Linked DNA regions of Homo sapiens: region 2 is linked to region 1. Evidence: fine-mapped expression QTL. A gene starts in region 1. The other region holds a variant in brackets. All regions are shown on one strand. Distances are from middle to middle. Region 1 holds the start of QDPR (quinoid dihydropteridine reductase). Region 2 has its middle 32 kb from the start of QDPR.

Region 1 (5,377 bases):
ACATAGCAAGACCCAGTCCCTACAAAAAAATTTTAAAATTAGTCAGGTGTGGTGGCACATGCCTGTAGCCCCAGCTACCCGGGAGGTTGAGGCGAGAGGATCACTTGAGCTCAGTGAGCTATGATCGCACCACTGTACTCCGGGCTAGGCAACAGAAGGAGGCCTTATCTCCATTTAAATAAAAGAAAAAGAAAAAGAAAGAAAAATAAAGGAGCAGAGTGGAGACAGGTAAGAGGCTTCAATGAAAACACACCCTATATTGGGCTCCATCCCAGGCCCTCCTACCTCCAAACACTCTACTCCGCCTCCACATTCACCTCTAAAACACAAACCCTGCACTTCTAGAGACATCAAGGGCCAGCAAATTTTCTGTAAAGGGCCAGATCACAATTACCTTAGGCTTTGCTGGCCATATGGTATCTGTTGTTACTCAAATCTGCAATTGTAACAGAACACAGCAATAAATAGGGGGAAAAAATAAGTGCAGCTGTGTTCCAATAAATCTTCAGAGCTGAAATGTGAATTTCATTAATTTTCATATACAACAAAATATAATTCTTCATTTGATTTTCTTTTCAACCACCTGAAAATGTAAAACTATTCTTAACTCTTGGGCTGTACAAAAACAGGTGGCAGACCAGATTCAGCTCACAAAGGATCCCTGTCCTGCAGCAGAGAGGGATGGACTTTAGGATTGGAAATCAGACAGATCAGGTTTGAATCCCAGCTCTGCCAGAGTGGCTTTCTCACTCCGATGCCGGGCAGAGGTTCCCAACAAAAGAGGTTGTTTGTTGATGATTAACAGGGTCAGTGTAAGAATTAAATGAAATGGAAGATGCTAAAGCTCCTGGCACAGGGGATGTTCAGTCCTTACTCAGGGTCTCTTGGTCTGAAGTCCCCAGAGATAATTATCTCTACCTTAAGCTGTAAACACAGCATCTATTCATCAACATTTGTTATATTATTAATTAACTTGTTATCCCATGGGGGATACTGAAACAATGAAAAGTCTCCATCATCCTAGCCCTCCCTAAGATGGCAGGAAGAAGCTCGGAGGGGAAAGACCAAGAGCCAGAGGTAAATCAGCTCTCCAGATTCTGCCAAGACCAAGGTAAACCAAAGTGCCACCACCAGGAGAAAGCACAGCCTTCACCCTCTAACACATGACGCTAACAGGATCTACTGCCTTAAAGATATTGGGGGCATTAAGAGTCTATGGGAACTCTGGTACTGGGAACACAGTGCCTGGCCCTTGGCAGAAGTGCTGCCTCTGTCACCACCATGCATCTCTGAAGACCTGGGAAAGCGCCCTCATCAGTGTCCCCAAGCACTGAGCAGATGGGTGGCAGGAAGGGAGTGGTGTGACTGAATTCTTCAGAAGCATATTCCTGTACCAGATTCTGAGCAACAAGAAAACCTTGGTAAATGTACACTATTTGGGTGATGGTTACACTAAAAGCCCAGACTTCACCACTACACAACATATCCATGTAACTAAACTGTACTTTTGCCCCCTTCATCTATAAAAATTAGATAGTTTTTTTTTAAAGAAAATCCTGAAAGCCTTTTTCTGGTCCCAGGGGAACTCTTGCCCAGGCTGCTGTGCTGCTGCTGCTAACTAAGCTCCCAGAACGCTGCCGCTGGCAGTGTCTCCACCGGGAAATTGCTGAGGCCTGCTGAGCGGCTGAGGTCAAGGGTCTTTGGCCATGTATCAGCTCTGCTCCGACTTGCCGCCTCCTGGAAATTGACACCTGACTATGCAAAGTAGTTGAAATAGTCTTTGCAGAGCAAAGAAGCCGTCAGCGTTTTTCCGTGCTGAGCCTTCAAACTGTCAGATCCAATGGGGCTAAAAGAACAGGGGTGGGTAGTAATAGTAACATTAATAGACAGCATTTAAACAGTTTTTACCAGGCGTCAGGTAATTTATGTGCAACGACACCAATTATCTCATCTAATCGTCCCAACTCTCACTGTCAGAATCTCCGTTGTACAAATGGGGAAACCGAGGTCCTACGGCGTTAGGTAATCAATACGCGGTCTCATGACTAGTAACCGGGACTGGGCTGTCTCATTCTAGAGCCTTCCTTCTACACTCTCTCTCCGTCCTCTCACCCCTGCTCCCGTTCCTCCCCTTTGGAATTCTCTCCCGAGTCACGCCGGACTTTTTGGGTCTGGCGGAGGCCCACGGAGCACCTCCTTGCACAGCAAAGGCCCAGCGCCCTGGGACTGGCGTGCGCACGCACTCGGAAACAGGAATAGACGCGTAGACCTGTGCGCGCACGTGCAAGCAACACGAGTCAGGGGGTGCACAGGGGCCCCCACCTTCCTCTAGACTGCCCCCCGCCGGGTTCCACACGAAAGCCCCCGGCCACCCCCGCGGAGACCCAGCAGCCCCAGCCCGCAGCATTACCCAGTTGCGGGCCCGAAAAGCCTGCACGCATCGAGAACCCAGAGCGCCCCTGCCGCCGTACACCAGCACCCGGCGCGCCTCGCCTGCAGCCGCCGCCGCCGCCATCCTGCTCCTGCCAGCCCGGCTCCCGCAGCTCCGAATGCCTCGAGCCGGAGCGCCGCGCCCCGCCCCGGCCGGCCAACCCCGCCAAGAGGGAACGCGCGGCGGCCGCGCCCCGCTCCGCGCCCGCTGCTGCCGCCTAGCGCGCTGCCACGCTCGGGGCGCCCCGCCACCCGGAGGGACTGTAACTTCGGCCAGGCCCTGCCCCTGGGACGGGGACATCGGCGAAGCCCCTCCTCCCACCCGCCAGCAAGTGCTGGGCCTCGGGGCGTGCAGCGAGCCGGGCTAAGGGCGAGGAGGGTGGAGAGCGGGTGTTTTACGAGCATTAATTTGTGAAGTGTAAGCATGTAAAATATAGTATAGTACAATTTTCGACCACTGTTTTGGCAATTTTTTATTTTTAATTGTGCATCAAAATAGAGATTTAAGTATTCCCACCTGCCAAAAAAACAGAAGAGGTCGCTCCGCTCAAGGAGCTGAAAGTCCACCGCCGAGACGAGACAAACCACACTAGGTCTTATTTCTTCTATCTAACCGTAAATTTATACCCATTAATCCAAATGGCCCTTTTACTATATGCCACCCATCGCCAGACACAGATCCTGGCATTTTCTCCCTTGTATATTAGTTATTTCTGCCCATGGCCTGTATCTTTAACACAGAGCCTCTCATCTACAGCACTACTGACATTTTGGGCCAGATAATTATTTGTGACAGGTGCTGCCCTGGGTACTGTAGGATATTTACAGCATCCCTGGCCTGCATATACTAGAAATCAATAGCAAACCCCTACCCCTCACTCATAAGAATCAAAAATATCTCCAGATTTAACAGTTGTCTCCTAGGGGCAAATTCATCACTGATAGAGAACCAGAGCTCTAACACTCTCATAACCTTCTTGATAGCAGAACCCTGTATTACATACATCTTTGTGTCACTTCCCATCCACATATAACCTTGTACACAGCAGACACAGATGTTTGTTCAGTAAACTTGTGCCAGGTAAAGCATGCAGAAATATGTCACTAGAGAAGAGGATGCAGCCAGCAGCACATTTTGTTGTCAGAAGCTTCATTATCAGAAATAGAACTGCTAGGAGGCTGGATGGAGAGGAGAGCACCATCTATTTAGTGCTCCTTATATCCAAGGCACTGCGCTAAGTGATCTGCCTGTGCTATTTCACTTTACTCCACACGATAATCCTATGCAGATTAGAAAGCTGAGGCATGAGAGTCACAGACACTTGTCTGGAAGAGTGGGAATTTGAACACAGGTCTTCAATAGCTAGAGTTCCACTTAACCACACCTTTGTTCAGCAAGACAAAGGCTTGTTGGGAATCAAGTGTTTCCCTTAGAGTTTTTCTGAAAACAATTGCTTAACCCTCAAAACACCAAAAGTTGACACAGGTCCCTCACTGACGGCAGAAATATGACTCAATGATATTTACGCAAGTCCTGACTTGTCAAAGCATGCTTAATGTTAAAATAAGAACGTGAACTAACATTATTGATCACTTAATGTGCCAAGCAGTCTTCTGAGCCTTTTATATGTATTCTGTTATTTTTTACCAGAAAAACATTTGCTGTTTCAAAGTCACTGGGATGAAGATGAGCTGTTGTAATTCAAAGACCTGAATTTCAGCCCCAGCACTGACATCCAGTTTTTCATGAGAGAAATGGCTGAAATCGTGCATCTCCTGTTTACCTTAAAGGGTTGCTGGAGCATCAGAGGTGAGCAAGCATATGGTCAAAGCATTTTGCATTTTGTACATGGTAAAGTGCCACTCATCTGTATATATAGTAAGAGACAGGATCTCACTCTGTTACTCAGAGTGGCATGATCATAGCTCACTACAGCCTTGAGCTCCTGGGCTGGAGCAGTCTTCCAGCCTCAGCCTCCAGTAGCTGGGACTACAAATACACGCCATCAGGCCCAACTATTTTTTTTTTTTATTTTTTGTAGAGATAAGGTCTCACTACATTGCCCAGGCTCAGAAATTCTCATTTTTATTTTCATTGTGGAGTGGCCACTGAAGTGAGCCCCAGTTGCGAGGAAGGAAACTGACATTTCCATTAATGTGTCCCTCTGCTTCCTTGACACTCTCCAAGTGAGATTCCTGGGACCCCTATTGGTTAACAGTGCAACTTCCTGAACCCCCCTTCAGGCTTCTGTGACCAACTAAGAAATTTTACTGCTCCACTTTTGCCCAACTTTGCTCCCCAGAGATATGGATAGAGTGACTGTTGCCAGTCTCACATGATGTTAAGTTGATATTCAGGAATAAGGTAAAAGTCAAAATGTCAAAGTCCACAGTATAAGATAGAAAGGAAAGAATATTTCATTCCTAGTATCTACAGATTAAAAGGAAAGCCTAGATCTTCCACTATTAGAAGAGATGAATACCCCAGCAGTGTGGCTACTATTTGCTAATACACTAGAAAAACACTTTTCTCTCCCATTTCAGATAACGTAGAAGGAGGGACGGGTGAGAGCAATGTTAAGTGTTGGATTCCAGGCTACCCCAACAGCCACAAAGTAATTCTAGTCACAGTTTACCCCCAGCAGATTCACACAGTGAGAAATTCATAAGGCCCTATTTACACATTTCAATATTAAAGCCCCAAGAACCGGGGTCATTTGATGGTATTAATAACAGTCCTAAAGATTCTGACAGCAGTGACATTTCAGAGAAAGAAATGCCAGGGCACCCATGCATCAGCGAGATCGACATTTGATACTGCGCATTGTTGGCAATATTCAAGTGCTAATCATTCTGTTTTTGTTTTCCTTCTAACACATGCATTTTTTGAGATTGGTTTGCGTCTCTTAATCTTCAGAGCTACCTGATTTTGCTTATTACTAACTCC
Region 2 (5,377 bases), 32 kb before region 1:
CCAGGTAGTGAACAAAGTGCACCTGTGTCCACCAACCTGCTGCATGGAGGAAGCCACCAAGGAGATGAGAGGCGGACAAAGCAGCAGATGGCAGGAATAAACAGGAGGAGATGTTACCGTCATGCCTCCCTAACCAGAGAATCATACAAACCACCAAGGGTGGCGCTTGGGTGTGGACCCCGGCTCCCTGACTCATTTGCATCACTTAGTAGGGATGTGCGGGATAGTAAGCTTCTCCAAGGCTGTTTCCCTGTCCACTCATTCAGCACTTACTCAACACTGAACAGGTGGAGAGGCACTGTGAAAAATAATGCTTCAGGGGGTAAGAGAAACTAATCTTCATCCCTTCTCTCCTCTACGTTCCTAACCCACCAGGAACAGACAGGAAGGTAGAGGTGAGAAATCAGTTCTGCATAGGCAAGAAGAGGGCAGGAGAGTGAGCAACCCACACAGCCCAAAGTCCATGCAGCAGACCCGCCCCTGGTCCATATGTTCCAGTCAGTCTTTATTTACAGTCTCTCCAATCAGATAAATCCGTCCTTCCTCCTATGGTGAGGAGCAAGTGAGGACCTCAAGAGAGGAAAAGATACATTCCTGCAAAAACCTTCCCATCCTGGAGGCTGAAGAGGTGAATGCCTTAAGGATATACAAGGAAGGATGTATGTAAAACCCCACACACACAGCAGATGGCCCATGAATGCCACATATCATTAGCACATTCAGGGACCAAGTGCCAATGTGCAATCTCTTTTTGTTTGTTTTTGAGATAGGGTCTGTATTAGTCCGTTTTCACGCTGCTGATTAAGATATACCCAAGACTGGGAAGAAAAAGAGGCTTCATTGGACTTACAGTTTCACATGGCTGGGGAGGCCTCAGAATCATGGCGGGAGGCAAAAGGCACTTCTTACGTGGTGACGGCAAGAGAAAAATGAGAAAGAAACAAAAGCAGAAACCCCTGATAAACCCATCAGATCTCGTGAGACTTATTCACTACCACGAGAATAGCATGGGAAAGACCGGCCCCATGATTCAATTACTTCCCCCTGGTTCCCTTCCATTCCCACAACACATGGTAATTCTGGGAGCCACAATTCAAGTTGACATCTGGGTGGGGACACAGCCAAACCAAATCAGGGTCTCACTCCATGATGGCTGGAGTACAATGGCATGATCACAGCTCACTGCAGCCTCAACCTCCCAGGCTCAAGTGATTCTCCCACCTCAGCCTCCCGAGTAGCTGGGGCTACAGGCATGTGCCACCATGCTGGGCTAATTTTTGTATTTTTTTGTGGAGAGGGGGTGTTACTATGTTGCTCAGGCTGGTCTCTAACTCCTGGGCTCAAGTGATCCACCCACCTAGGCCTCCCATAGTGGCTGGGAGCCACCATGCCCAGCCTTCCAATGTGCAAGCTCAACTCACACTTAGTATGTCCTGCACCCTGTCCATAAGGGATCTCACAGACTTCAGTGCAAATTCTGGCTTCTTTCTACACCGGCTATGTGGTTTGGGAAAATAACTTAAACTCTATGATCCTTAGTTCCCTCACCAGATATGGAACTAATATCTACCTCACTCAGGTGCTTAGTCCAGGTTCCCTAGAAAACAGCGAGAAACGAAAGCTTATGTGCAAATGGAAATCATCAAAGTTAAAAATTATGTTCTTCAAAGGGCACCATCAATAAAGTGAAAAGACAACCCACTGAATGAAAGAAAGGTGTGGCAAATCACTTATCTGATAAGGGAATTGTATCTAGAGTATATAGAGAATCTAAGAATTCAGTAATAAAAGGATATTATTAAAAATTGAGCAAAGGATCTGAACAGACATTTCACCATATGCAAATAGCCAACAAGTACATGAAAAGATGCTCAACATCATCAGCTATGAGGGAAATACAAATCAAAATCACAATGAGATGCCACTCCACACCCACTAGGATGGCTATAATCAAAAAGAGACAACCTATAATCAAGCAATCAGTGCCGATTTTTAAGAAAACCAAAATTAAGATACCAACTGAATTAAAAATTATGTAATACTTGTGGCACTCTGACAAATGAGACCTTGAGGTCCTTACTTGCTCCTCACCATAGGAGGAAGAGGATGGACTTATCTGACTGGAGACATGTAAATCAAGACTGACTGGACTGGACATGTGGAAAAACTAAAACCATCATACACTACCAGTGGAAATGTAAAATGGTGCAGCTGCTTTGGAAAACAGTCTAGTAATTGCTAAAATGGTTGAATATAGAGTCACCAACTGATATTCAATAACTCTACTTGTAGGCATGTACCAAAAGAAATGAAAATATATGTTCACACAAAAGGTGAGTTTTGCAAATGTTCACAGCATCATAACTGACTATGGCCAAAAAGCAGAAACAATTCACATGTCTAACAACTGATGAGTGGACAAATAAAATGTGGCATAACCATACAATGGAATATTATTTGGCAATAAGAACCGAAGTATTGCCACGTGCTGTGTGACATGAACTTTACTTTCCCGTCATACTTCCATATAAAATTAGAAACAGATAATAAGAATAACAACCAATACTTTCTGAGCACTTCTATATGCCAGTCCTTTTGCATGCATTCATTTGTTTAATCCCTGGAGATCATGATAATGTTCCCGTTTCTCATATGACTGAGATATGGAGATGTAAGAAATATTCTCAAGGTTCTACAGCAAGTAAATGGAAGAACTATGTCCAAATTCATGTGACCTGACTCAGGGCCCTTCTATAACTCTATATTGCTTCTAGGTGTAGGTTATACTCACACTGAAAGTTCCAAAGAAAAAGTCACAATTGTTTAATGGAACAGACCACAGCGGGTTCCTCCCCAGTACTCTGGAGGAGCCCCATGGCATGCTGTTCTATTCCTAGAAGCTGTGTACGCTCTCAGCTTCCAGGAACATGCAGGCTGACCTCCAAGCTGGTGACAGCCCATTTGGAAGGGGGCAGAAGCCACAATCTGGAATGTAGCAGGAAATTAGCACCTAGAGGCAAGCTGTCTTCAGGCAAGTTCGGGCTGAGGGAAGCTAAAATTCAATAAGCCAGGCTTCAAATTACATGTATCTGATCAATTCCCTAAGAAATGATTTCAGCTATAAAGCATACCTGTGAGAACAAACAGATTCAAAAACCTGGTAGAGTTTTCCAGATTC[T/G]GTTCAAGGATAAAGTTTAGAAGATTCCAACAAAGTACCTAACCTAAGTTAAAGTTGTCTGTACACCATTTCCTCTCCTCTCATGCTTTCATAACCCCACTCGAATATTCCCTACTCCCCATTACTCTACTGAACTGTTTGTCAAGATCGCAAGGACCTCCCCACAGCTGGGTCCAATGGTCAGTTTTTATAGCCCTTATCTTACTTGACTTCTCACAGCATTCAACACTGCTGCTCATTCCCTCCCTTCTTGATACTTTCTTCACTTTATTCCTGGGACACCACATTCTTACTTTTTCTCCTACTTTATTGGTTGTTCTCTTTCAGTGCCCTTTTGTTGATTTTTTTTCTCCCTATTATCAGAGAAATTATCTTCTTCTCTTCTCTTCTCACATATTTAGTGTATTGCCAGTTTCCAATTTATTTCCTCTCTGCTCCAAAGCCACCCTTCATTGACTGTTCTGCAATAATGGAACTGGACTCTGTAAACATTTCTCCTGCATAGCTGATACAATGTTCAGTTTTGCCAACACAGAGTGTTGGAGGAGGGGGCTTCCTTTCCTGGTTCTGGTGTGCTTCCATATGGTTCCTGCCACATGGTTACCATGTACATGTGAGGGACATCCAGCAGCACTTCATGCACCCTGGCAGGGTGCTTCCTGCTTCCCCAGTGGCTGTAGACCAACACAGGCCCAGGGAACCCAACAAACTCTGCTGTCCAGTGCCATAACTTCTCCATGTCCACCTCTCTATGTCCTACTCTATGTCCACCGCCATACCTTCTCCAATGAAGCTCAGGTCCCAGCCTTGGGGAGGGACTTGTCTTCCAAATTTGTTCCTCAAGTGCTGTCCCTCGGCACAAGAATATTCTTCAGAGTTCTCATTAGCCTTTTAGAATTAATCTTTGCTACTCGATAATTCTTTATATTACACTGACCTCATTCACAATACTGCATGGCTTCTGTCTTCTGGACCCTGGCCAACACATTCCCTTAGTGATCTCACCTAGTCTCATAACTTTAACTGCTTAGGACCCCCAGATCTCTCAGGACCCCTAGATCTCTCTCTCTCTCAAACACCAGACTTAATACAACTGCCCACTTAACATCTCCACTGGGGTATTAATAGAGTAAACCTCTATGTCCAAAACAACACTCCAGATACTCCCAATACTTGCTCTATCCACAGCCTTCTCTATCACACTTGCTAACTTAATCCATTTGCTCACGTGAAAAACTTTGGGAGACATCACTGACTCTTTTCTCTCTTACCGTCACATTAAATCCACCAGGAAATCCTCTTGAATCTGTCTTCAAAATATCCACCATTTCCCAATTCTCCTCTCACGACCTCCACTGCTACCACCCTAACCACTGTCATTTCTTGCCTGGATTCTTGCAAAAACCTCAGTACTATCCTCAACACAACAGCCAGAGCAATCTTTTAAAATATATCATGCCACTCTTTCGCTCAAAATCCTTGCGGTAGTTCCCAAAATCCAAAACCAAATCCTTAAAATGCCCAACACCCCCTTACATTTGCTATTCCCAAACTGTGCACCAAGGCACTCCAAGGCAGCATTCACAGGGACTCTACAGGGTACTTTCCATGTTCTAGGTCATAGAGCAATATCAGTCATATTACTACTATAAAATTGTTAGAACCCAACCACTTGTAAATCCAAATCATTAGTTAGTTTCTTTGATGTAGGGGCATTGTAAAAAATTACTGAGACACTAAGGGCACTGTGGGCCTAGAAAATTGGGGGACCCCTACCCTACACAATCATCTGTCTGATCTTATCTCCTGAAACTGCCCCTCTGTTTGCTCCATTCTCTGCCCCAGCCAACCCAGCCTCCCTGTGTTCCTCACCCCACCTGGTACACTACTGCCTCAGGCTCTTTGCAATGACTGGTTCCTCTGTCTTAAAATGTCCTTACCTCAGATGCCCTTGGCTGCCTTCTACACTTTCTTTCAGATGTGTTCAAACGTCACTTCCTCACGAGATATTCCATCACTGCCTGTATTAGTGTGGGCTGCCATAACAAAACACCACAGAGTGGGTGGCTTAACATCACACATTTATTTTCTCTGTTCTGGAGGCTGAAAGTCCAAGACTGAGGCTCCAGTCAATTCCATCTCTTGTGAGGGCTCTCTTCTCAGCTTGTGGACGGCAGCCTCCTTGCTGTGTCCTCACAC

The links.
Region 2: its variant is fine-mapped to the expression of QDPR in monocytes (Quach 2016, PIP 0.95).

The regions. Positions count from the first base shown.
Region 1 is chr4:17,509,540-17,514,916 of GRCh38, forward strand. It overlaps QDPR (quinoid dihydropteridine reductase), which reads right to left and starts at 2,551. Exons shown (of 7, transcript NM_000320.3): 1 at 2,411-2,551. The coding sequence starts at 2,515. RefSeq lists a silencer at 2,180-2,759.
Region 2 is chr4:17,477,792-17,483,168 of GRCh38, forward strand. No RefSeq gene overlaps it. Among named protein-coding and RNA genes, the nearest start is that of QDPR, 32 kb to the right of the region's middle. The variant T/G (reference allele first, on the strand shown) is at 3,179.